2 linked regions of the Homo sapiens genome follow. Each later gene encodes a partner of the first gene's protein in a complex. Each region holds a gene or a part of one and is shown in the gene's direction. Other genes may lie near its edges. The genes, in order: TAX1BP3 and KCNJ4.

Region 1 (3,480 bases):
TCATAGGGAATAGGTTCCAGCAGCTCAGGCGCCTTCCCGTTGGTTCTCACAAAGTGTGCTTCCCTGGGTGGAGCAGGCTGGTGCTTTAGTTGAACCCAGGTACCTTTCTCTTTGGCTTCTTTCTTTTTCTGATCATTTTCCTTCACGCGTTCCAGGAAGCTATCTCGGCTCTTAGAGTGCTTTATGTGCTCAATACGCACATTAATTCTCTTGGCAAGAATCTTGCCCTTAACTTGTTTGTTTACAACAATGCCAACAGCATGCTGGGGAACATTGTAGACTCTTCCAGTTTTGCCATGGTAACCCTTGTGGGGCATTCCTTTTTGAACAGTACCCATTCCCTTGATGTCTACAGTATCACCTTTCTTATAGATTCGCATATATGTGGCCAAAGGAACATCTCCATGTTTTCTAAAAGGCCTAGAGAACATATATCCGGTGCCTCTCCTCTTTCCCTTTGTGTTCGTCATTTTGGCGAATTACTGGAAGATGGCGGTTCCGGCCGAAAGGAAACCCCTTCCTCTCCTTTCTATGCAAGTTTGATCTCTGCTTTTCCAGAGCACCTCCTGTGAGACGGGCTTCCCACCTACAGAAGCCACAGCACCTGGACTCTTGGGCCAGCAGGGGCTTCCACCACATGTTGACCAAGACTAGTGCCTAAGACTAACAGGGGAAGTGGGGACAGGTTGAGGACACAGGGCTGTGTGGGTGGATCAATGTGGCCAAGTTCTGAGTGCCAGCTCCTCAGCCTCCCAGGCTGGTGAGCAGCTGGATTCCTGCAGGGGCCTGGGACCCAGCCCCTTGTCATGGCTCTGAGGCTGCTGCTGGGAACACCCACCAGCCTAATTCTCCAACCACCCACTTCTCTCAACTGGCTTTTTTCTTTGCCAGCAAAGAGTTGAAATTCACAAGCTGCGTCAAGGTGAGAACTTAATCCTGGGTTTCAGCATTGGAGGTGGAATCGACCAGGATCCTTCCCAGAATCCCTTCTCTGAAGACAAGACGGACAAGGTGAGGGGGTCTGGGGTCCTGGGACCGCTCCATGGGGCACAGGGGCCTGAGATGGTGGGTCTCTGCTTCCTGGGCCTGCATGGAAGGAACAGACTTCATCTCTCAAACCATGCTCTCTAAGAAGGCATCGGAAGTGACCTAGTGAGAATAAGGACGGGTGGGGTGAGGAAGGGCTGCTCAGACAGAGCCCAGGAGGAGCAGGAGGCGGCCATCAGCAGGGCCGGTGCATGGTGGTGCAGCAACTCTGCCCCGGCTCTCTCAGAACAGTCCTCACTGACCATATGTGCTGGGAGAGGCTGGGTGCAGGGACAGAGGGACGGCTGAGAATGTGCCATGCTGGCTTCCGCTGTGTGATAAGGGGCCAGTCCAGTGACCACAGGGCTTGACTTGGGCTGCCCCTTTCCAGGGTATTTATGTCACACGGGTGTCTGAAGGAGGCCCTGCTGAAATCGCTGGGCTGCAGATTGGAGACAAGATCATGCAGGTAACAGGTGTCCCAAAGGAGGAGAAACAAGGTTTGGGCAAGCAGGTCTGAAGCACTTGGGGGTGGGGAGCTGCCCCAGCCTCCCAGCTGGGAGAGACTCACTGCAGCCAATTGGGAACCCATACTGGCATTGCCCCAGAGGACGCTGGCTTTCTCTCCTGTGTGTCTCAGCCACAGTGCTTGGTGTCTCCCAGCCCTGGGATGTTAGGCTGGGGGCCTACTTGAATGACCTGGGCCCCCAAAGCCCTCTGCTTCCAGATCCCAGAGGGCGGGGAGCTGAGGTGAGCCTGTGTTCTCTCCTGGGGCCAGGTGAACGGCTGGGACATGACCATGGTCACACACGACCAGGCCCGCAAGCGGCTCACCAAGCGCTCGGAGGAGGTGGTGCGTCTGCTGGTGACGCGGCAGTCGCTGCAGAAGGCCGTGCAGCAGTCCATGCTGTCCTAGCAGCCACCACCATCTGCGACTCCTGCCTGCCGCCTCTCTGTACAGTAACGCCACTTCCACACTCTGTCCCCATCTGGCTTCTGCTGACCGCTGGGCCCCAGCTCAGAAGGGCTATAGCTGGTCCCAGAGGCCTGGCCTGGCCTTCCTTCCCTTCTCCCATCCCTGGCCTGGGGCCTCTGGGACCGGCTTTCTCTCCTGGACACCGAGGATTGGAAATAAGGGCCTGGAGCTGAGTAGTAGCCAGTCTGCTGTGACCACAGGCTCAGGTCCGACCCTGCTGCTTGGCCACAGCAGTGGCTGGGCAAGTGGGAACCACTATCTCTTGGGAGCCCCCAAAAGCTGGGAAATGCTGGAGGAACCAGGCCTTTCCCGCTTTTGCCTGGCTGCAGGGTTCGGCTCCGCCCCTGCCCCCCAGCCCTCGTGTGTCCACACCGCAGTGCCTCTGCCCCTCGGGGGACTGGACACACATCCTGCCAGAGGCGCTACGAAGCTTTGCCCAGATGAAGCCAGGTGGGCTCCGCGTTCACTCCCACTCTCCCGAGGGGTGCTGGCCTCCCCAGGGTTTGCCTTCTTACGGATTTAGACGAGGTTCGAGGCTCACCTATCAGGGCAGCTCTCAGGATTGTCATTTTCCTCTTTGCCTGTGGGTTTAACTTTTGTATTTTTTTAATCACAAGTTTGATACAAAATGTTTTTATCGTACTCTTTGGAGATGCCCATTCTACTTTTGAATTTAGCTTTTACTAATTCGCATCTGGAAGCTCAGCAAGTGCACAAGCCTTACTTTGGTTACCGTGGAAACCACTGCCGCCCCTCCCCGATGTGGTGCGCTCAATAAAAATGCTGGAATTCACAGGGGGCTTTGCTGAGGCATGGGCTGGGATATCGGGGTGGGGGTGGCGGTGGGATATTGGGGCCAGAGCTGTGGTTTTAATGATGGCCCCATCCCCCACTGTTCTGGGACAAAGCTCAACTACTCCCAGGCCCACCTGCCTGAAAGCCCGGGGCTGGTGGAGCCGCAGCAGCTGCACTGCGCCTGACCAGAACCACATCTGTGGGAGTGTCTGGGAGCACTGGGGTGGGACCCTGGGGTGCGTGTGCTTTCTTGGGTGTTACTGTGAAGCCCCTACTTGCTCCCAACCTCCTTTTTGCAACCTAGCCTCAGCTCCCACCTGGGAGGGGCCGTAGGGACACCCAGAGGTGCCTGGGAGAGACCCCTGCCTATAAGACTCCCTGCCTATAAGGGCACTCCGTGTATCCCAGCGAGGGACACAACCCCACGTGTTGCTGGGGGCCGTGATCTGGCCAGATGGGGGTGAGTCAGAGAGCACCTGACTACCTGCGTACCACCTCTGGGAAGGTGTTAGCACTCCTGGACCTACCTAGCACTGCCAAATCAGATTTTAAAGAAAAGTCAATAATTTTTTTTTTTTTTTGAGATGGAGTTTCGTTCTTGTTGCCCAGGCTGGAGTGCAATGGCGTGATCTTCGCTCACTGCAACCTCCGCCTCCTGGGTTCAAGTAATTCTCCTGCCTCAG
Region 2 (5,669 bases), on another chromosome or scaffold:
GGGATCGGCTCCCTTACCCCCAAGGCCCCTCCAGAGGTGGGGAAGTCCAGGAAGAGATCTCGTCTGCAGCACCAGGTGAACTCGCCATGTCAGGAGGCAATCCCACCGGGCAGAGAACCAGGGATCCCCTGGAACCCTGGGCTTGTGTTTGGCCTTGGGCAGGGCCCCCCACCTTCTCTGGAGCTCAGTGACCTCACCCGTTGAAGGCCTGGGCCGCCACACCCTGTCCCCTCTGCCTCTATCCTGCACACCTGTGGATGGTGGTCCAGTTTGGACTGGCTGGTTTCTTCTCTTCCCTTGCCCCAAAACCCACTCCAGCCCCCTGCAGGGAGGAAGTGGATGAGGAGCTCTGGGGTGGGGGTGAGGCCTTGTTCAGGGCTGGCCCACCTGGCTCCACTCTGGGACTCTTAGCAAGTCCTTCCTATCTCTGGATGTCCTTGGTCTCCGATATAAAATGAGGGTCCTGAACTCGGTGACCCTATGCTCCTCCTGTCCTGACAGTCCGCGGTGCCCCTGGAGCCATTTCAGGCAGTGGGACAGAACAGGGGGAATACATTTAGCAAAGAAAGGCCTCCCTGAAAACTCTATTTACAGAGCAGAAGGTGTGCCTGGCCCCAGAACCCCAAGCCTTTCTCCTGGAGCCCTGGCTGCTGGGATGCTGCGGGAGGGGGCAAAGAGGGTCTGGGCCTCCCAGCTCTGAAGGGCCAGCATTACGTTAGAGGCCGTGCCTGCATGACCTGTCGGGTCTCCAGCATGATATCTCATTGGCCCAATTTTCTCATTTTCTTTTTTTTTCGAGACGAAGTCTCACTTTGTTGCCCAGGCTGGAGTGCAGTGGCACGATCTCGGCTCACTGCAACCTCTGCCTCCCAGGTTCAAGCGATCCTCCTGCCTCAGCCCCCCAGTAGCTGGGATTACAGGCACACGCCACCATGCCCGGCCTAATTTTTGTATTTTCAGTAGAGACGGGGTTTCTTCATGTTGGTCAGGCTGGTCTCAAACTCCCAACCTCAGGTGATCCACCCGCCTCGGCCTCCCAAAGTGCTGGGATTACAGGCGTGAGCCACCGCACCCAGTCAGCCCCATTTTCAAGATGAGGAAACTGAGGTTCAGAGTAGTCAACAGCTCGCCCAAGTCACACAGTGGATCTAGGACTTCAACCCAGGACTGTAGGAGCCAGGGAGCTCTTTGAGAACCAGGGGAATAGGGAGAAGAACTCGGAGTCAGGGTGGGTGACCGCGGGGGAGGAGGTGGGGGCAGGGCTCACTCTCCCTGGGCCCGGAGAGGGAGTTTCTCTTGGGAAGAGGCAGGCTCTGAGGCTGTTGATCTCTAAATTATAGCGTTGGCGCGTACCGGTTGCTGCGGCAACCGAGTTGTCCTGAACCGGGGAAGTGTATAAACATTGCCACAGATGCACAATTAGATCAGGAAGAAGAATAGAACAGAAAATAGAAACTTCCAGCCTTATGTAATTCTGGGCCAAAATGTTATTGGGAACCCAGGCCCAGTCCTGGCCCTGCCAGCTGCTGGGGCCTGGGGCAGCAGCATGTCTTCCCTGGGGACGCAATGGCAGAGAGGGGTGGAGAGAAGGTCTGTCCTCTACGGGCCCGAGGCGCATCCCGCCACCCAGTGGGGTGAGGGGCCTCTTCTGCTGCAACAGCTGGGGATGCTTGACAGGCAAATCCTGCCTGTCACCAGCTCCTGGGAAGTGTGGGAAGGAAGGCAGGAGGGTGATGGCTTTACCCCAGCACCTGCTGTCCCCGTAGGTCCCATGAGGTAGGGAGTTTTGGTGCCCATGTTACATGAAGACATGGAGGCTCTGAGAGGTGAACTGAATTGCCCGAGGTGTGTCCTCCCCTCCCACTCCCTGTCTCCCCGCCATCAACTCATTCATGTTGGTGCCACGCAAGTTTGTATCCACTGCCAGCTTTGTGGCTGGCAGGTGGCTTTCCATCTCTGAGCCACCTGGGACATGGGAATAGCGATGTCTACAGAGGAGTCAGAGCTGGGGGCTCCCCCTTCCTCCACCCTGACTGTCACATTGGATTCTCCCCTCACCACTGCTCCTAACAAGTGTGGGCACTGGGCAGGAATTTGGGCTCAAGGACTCAAAGCAACACTGGGAGAGAAGAGTCTAAGAAAGGAGCTCAGACCCAGGTGGGGCTGCGGGTCCCAGTAGAACTTTTTCTTTCTTTTTTTTTTTTTTTTTTTTTTTGACATGGGGTCTTGCTCTGTGACCCAGGTTGGAGTTCAGTGGCATGATCACAGCTCACTGCAGCCTTGACCCCCTGGGCTCAATAGATCCTCCTGCCTTAGCCTCCTGAGTAGCTGGTACCAGAGGCATGCACCACCATGCCTGGCTAATTTTCTTATTTTTTGTAGAGATGGGGTCTCACTCTGTTGCCCAGGCTGGTCTCAAACTCCTGGCACAAACAATCTTTGCATCTCGGCCTCCTAAAATGCTGAGATCACAGGCATGAGCCCCTGTGCCCAGCCAGAAATTTCTCAGTGATAGAACTCTCCTGTGTCTTCTCTGTCCAGTGTGGTGGCCGTTGACCACATGTGGCTCCTGATCACTTGAAATGTGGCTCATGCAAGGAAGGAGCTGCAGTTAATATTTTATTTCGTTTTAATTAAATGTAAAGAGCCACACGTGGCCAGTGGCTAGTGCACAGGAGGATGTCCAGCCCCCGAGAAGCCCAAAAGTGCAGAGATGGAATCCAGGGAGGGAAGCGGGCTTAGCGCCTCCGTGGCTCCCTATGCTCAGGGCAAGCAGGACAGAGGGACAGGGAGGAACCAAGATGGGCATCAGGAAGCTTCCAGAACAGTGAGCATAGGAGGGCCGGAGGGGCAGTGTTGAGGGGCAGGGACTAGGACCTGGATCCTTGTGGCTTTAGCTTCCTGGTCTATGGACCCCAGTCTCTAAGCTGGGCCGGACTGGGTGGCACTGGCTCAGACCCTGTCATCAGAGCCACCTCTGCTGCCACCCTCCGCCTGCCGGGGCAGAGGAAGTCTTAGGTCCTGGTCCAGGCTCACCTGCTTCTGAGAGTCTTGGGGCTGAGTCTGAGTGGCCCCGAGGGAGCCCCTCGCTCCCCAGCATCTCACCTGTCCGGCTTCTCCTCCGCAGGCCCTGCGTCTTCCCAGGTGACCACGCCGGCTTCAGGACATGCACGGACACAGCCGCAACGGCCAGGCCCACGTGCCCCGGCGGAAGCGCCGCAACCGCTTCGTCAAGAAGAACGGCCAATGCAACGTGTACTTCGCCAACCTGAGCAACAAGTCGCAGCGCTACATGGCGGACATCTTCACCACCTGCGTGGACACGCGCTGGCGCTACATGCTCATGATCTTCTCCGCGGCCTTCCTTGTCTCCTGGCTCTTTTTCGGCCTCCTCTTCTGGTGTATCGCCTTCTTCCACGGTGACCTGGAGGCCAGCCCAGGGGTGCCTGCGGCGGGGGGCCCGGCGGCGGGTGGTGGCGGAGCAGCCCCGGTGGCCCCCAAGCCCTGCATCATGCACGTGAACGGCTTCCTGGGTGCCTTCCTGTTCTCGGTGGAGACGCAGACGACCATCGGCTATGGGTTCCGGTGCGTGACAGAGGAGTGCCCGCTGGCAGTCATCGCTGTGGTGGTCCAGTCCATCGTGGGCTGCGTCATCGACTCCTTCATGATTGGCACCATCATGGCCAAGATGGCGCGGCCCAAGAAGCGGGCGCAGACGTTGCTGTTCAGCCACCACGCGGTCATTTCGGTGCGCGACGGCAAGCTCTGCCTCATGTGGCGCGTGGGCAACCTGCGCAAGAGCCACATTGTGGAGGCCCACGTGCGGGCCCAGCTCATCAAGCCCTACATGACCCAGGAGGGCGAGTACCTGCCCCTGGACCAGCGGGACCTCAACGTGGGCTATGACATCGGCCTGGACCGCATCTTCCTGGTGTCGCCCATCATCATTGTCCACGAGATCGACGAGGACAGCCCGCTTTATGGCATGGGCAAGGAGGAGCTGGAGTCGGAGGACTTTGAGATCGTGGTCATCCTGGAGGGCATGGTGGAGGCCACGGCCATGACCACCCAGGCCCGCAGCTCCTACCTGGCCAGCGAGATCCTGTGGGGCCACCGCTTTGAGCCTGTGGTCTTCGAGGAGAAGAGCCACTACAAGGTGGACTACTCACGTTTTCACAAGACCTACGAGGTGGCCGGCACGCCCTGCTGCTCGGCCCGGGAGCTGCAGGAGAGTAAGATCACCGTGCTGCCCGCCCCACCGCCCCCTCCCAGTGCCTTCTGCTACGAGAACGAGCTGGCCCTTATGAGCCAGGAGGAAGAGGAGATGGAGGAGGAGGCAGCTGCGGCGGCCGCGGTGGCCGCAGGCCTGGGCCTGGAGGCGGGTTCCAAGGAGGAGGCGGGCATCATCCGGATGCTGGAGTTCGGCAGCCACCTGGACCTGGAGCGCATGCAGGCTTCCCTCCCGCTGGACAACATCTCCTACCGCAGGGAGTCTGCCATCTGACCTCCAGGCCCGGCCCTCACCACTGCCCACAAGAGCCTCTGCCGGGGGTGGGATGCCAGGACACCCCCTCCCACACTCAGGACAGAGCCAACCCTGGCTCCGTGGACCTTCTGGAGGAAGGTGGGGGTTTCAAAGACTGGGGGACCCCTTCCTCCTGACTCCAGCACCCAGGCCTGGGAAGAGCTCGGCCCCGATCAGCCTGAGTTCCGCCAGCGCCTACTTCTGGTGGCTCTAGGTCCCCGGATCCACCACCCTTCCCCCACTGACTCTTCAAGGACGTGCCCTCTTTGCTCTCAGAACCTTGGGGAAGGTGGCTGGACTGCTGGGCGGGGGACATCTCGGGGTTTCAGGGTGGGCAGGGGGTTAGTTTGGGGAGGGGGGGGTGCGTTTCTTTTGCATGACTGTGGCCTGTTGCTCATGACTTTCTTTTGTAAATATCTATAAATGGAGACAGATGGAGACACCAAATTCACTTTCTGCCGTTTTTACCTGCTGGACAGGGAGATGCAGTCCCTCTCTGTGCACCCCTCCCCACCCAGCCCATCAAGCCTAGCGCCTTCCCCTGCCCAGCTGGCTGGCCCCTTGAGGCCCTCAACGCCAGCCACCTTGGCCCTTGGATGGTGTTGGGTTTGGGTGCAGAGGAGGGACTCTGAGGGGTGGGATGAGGGACCATCCCTCCCTCCCTGCAGTCCCTCCAGCCCCGGGCCCAGCCCAGATTGACAACAGAGTTTGTAACCATATATATATATATATATATATATTTTTTTTTTATTTTTTATTATTATTTTTTTTTCTTGAGACGGAGTTTTGCTCTTGTTGCCCATGCTGGAGTGCAATGGAGCAATCTCGGCTCACTGCAACCTCCGCTTCCCAGGTTCGAGCGATTCTCCTGCCTCAGCCTCCTGAGTAGCTGAGATTACAGGCATGAGCCACCATACTCAGCTAAGTTTTGTATTTTTAGTAAAGATGGGGTTTCACCATGTTGGCCAGGCTGGTCTCGAACTCCTGACCTCAGGTGATCCACCCACCTTGGCCTCCCAAAGTGCTGGGATTACAAGTGTGAGTCACCGCACCCAGCCGTAACTATATATTTTTAATAAAGTACATGGTCCATTAGGGGTAGGCTGGTTGAAGATGGAGGGGTGAGAAGGAGAGAAAGAGAGTG

The links.
Region 2: the proteins of TAX1BP3 (region 1) and KCNJ4 are in contact, whole or in part, in a crystal structure (PDB 3GJ9), measured with the Homo sapiens proteins. Residues at the interface, in NP_055419.1 of Homo sapiens: Leu27 (codon at 931), Ile28 (codon at 934), Leu29 (codon at 937), Gly30 (codon at 940), Phe31 (codon at 943), Ser32 (codon at 946), Ile33 (codon at 949), Gly34 (codon at 952), Gly35 (codon at 955), Asp38 (codon at 964), Gln39 (codon at 967), Gln43 (codon at 979), Asn44 (codon at 982), Thr58 (codon at 1,430), Arg59 (codon at 1,433), His90 (codon at 1,835), Asp91 (codon at 1,838), Arg94 (codon at 1,847), Leu97 (codon at 1,856), Thr98 (codon at 1,859); in NP_004972.1 of Homo sapiens: Arg440, Arg441, Glu442, Ser443, Ala444, Ile445.

What each region holds. Positions count from the first base shown.
Region 1 is NC_000017.11:3,662,210-3,665,689, reverse strand, and holds the end of TAX1BP3 (tax1-binding protein 3), read left to right. Parts: intron 1-891; coding exon 892-1,011; intron 1,012-1,417; coding exon 1,418-1,495; intron 1,496-1,804; coding exon 1,805-1,942; 3' UTR 1,943-2,795; downstream 2,796-3,480. UniProt on the Homo sapiens protein: May regulate a number of protein-protein interactions by competing for PDZ domain binding sites. Binds CTNNB1 and may thereby act as an inhibitor of the Wnt signaling pathway. Competes with LIN7A for KCNJ4 binding, and thereby promotes KCNJ4 internalization.
Region 2 is NC_000022.11:38,425,630-38,431,298, reverse strand, and holds the end of KCNJ4 (inward rectifier potassium channel 4), read left to right. Parts: intron 1-3,127; 5' UTR 3,128-3,166; coding exon 3,167-4,504; 3' UTR 4,505-4,972; downstream 4,973-5,669. UniProt on the Homo sapiens protein: Inward rectifier potassium channels are characterized by a greater tendency to allow potassium to flow into the cell rather than out of it.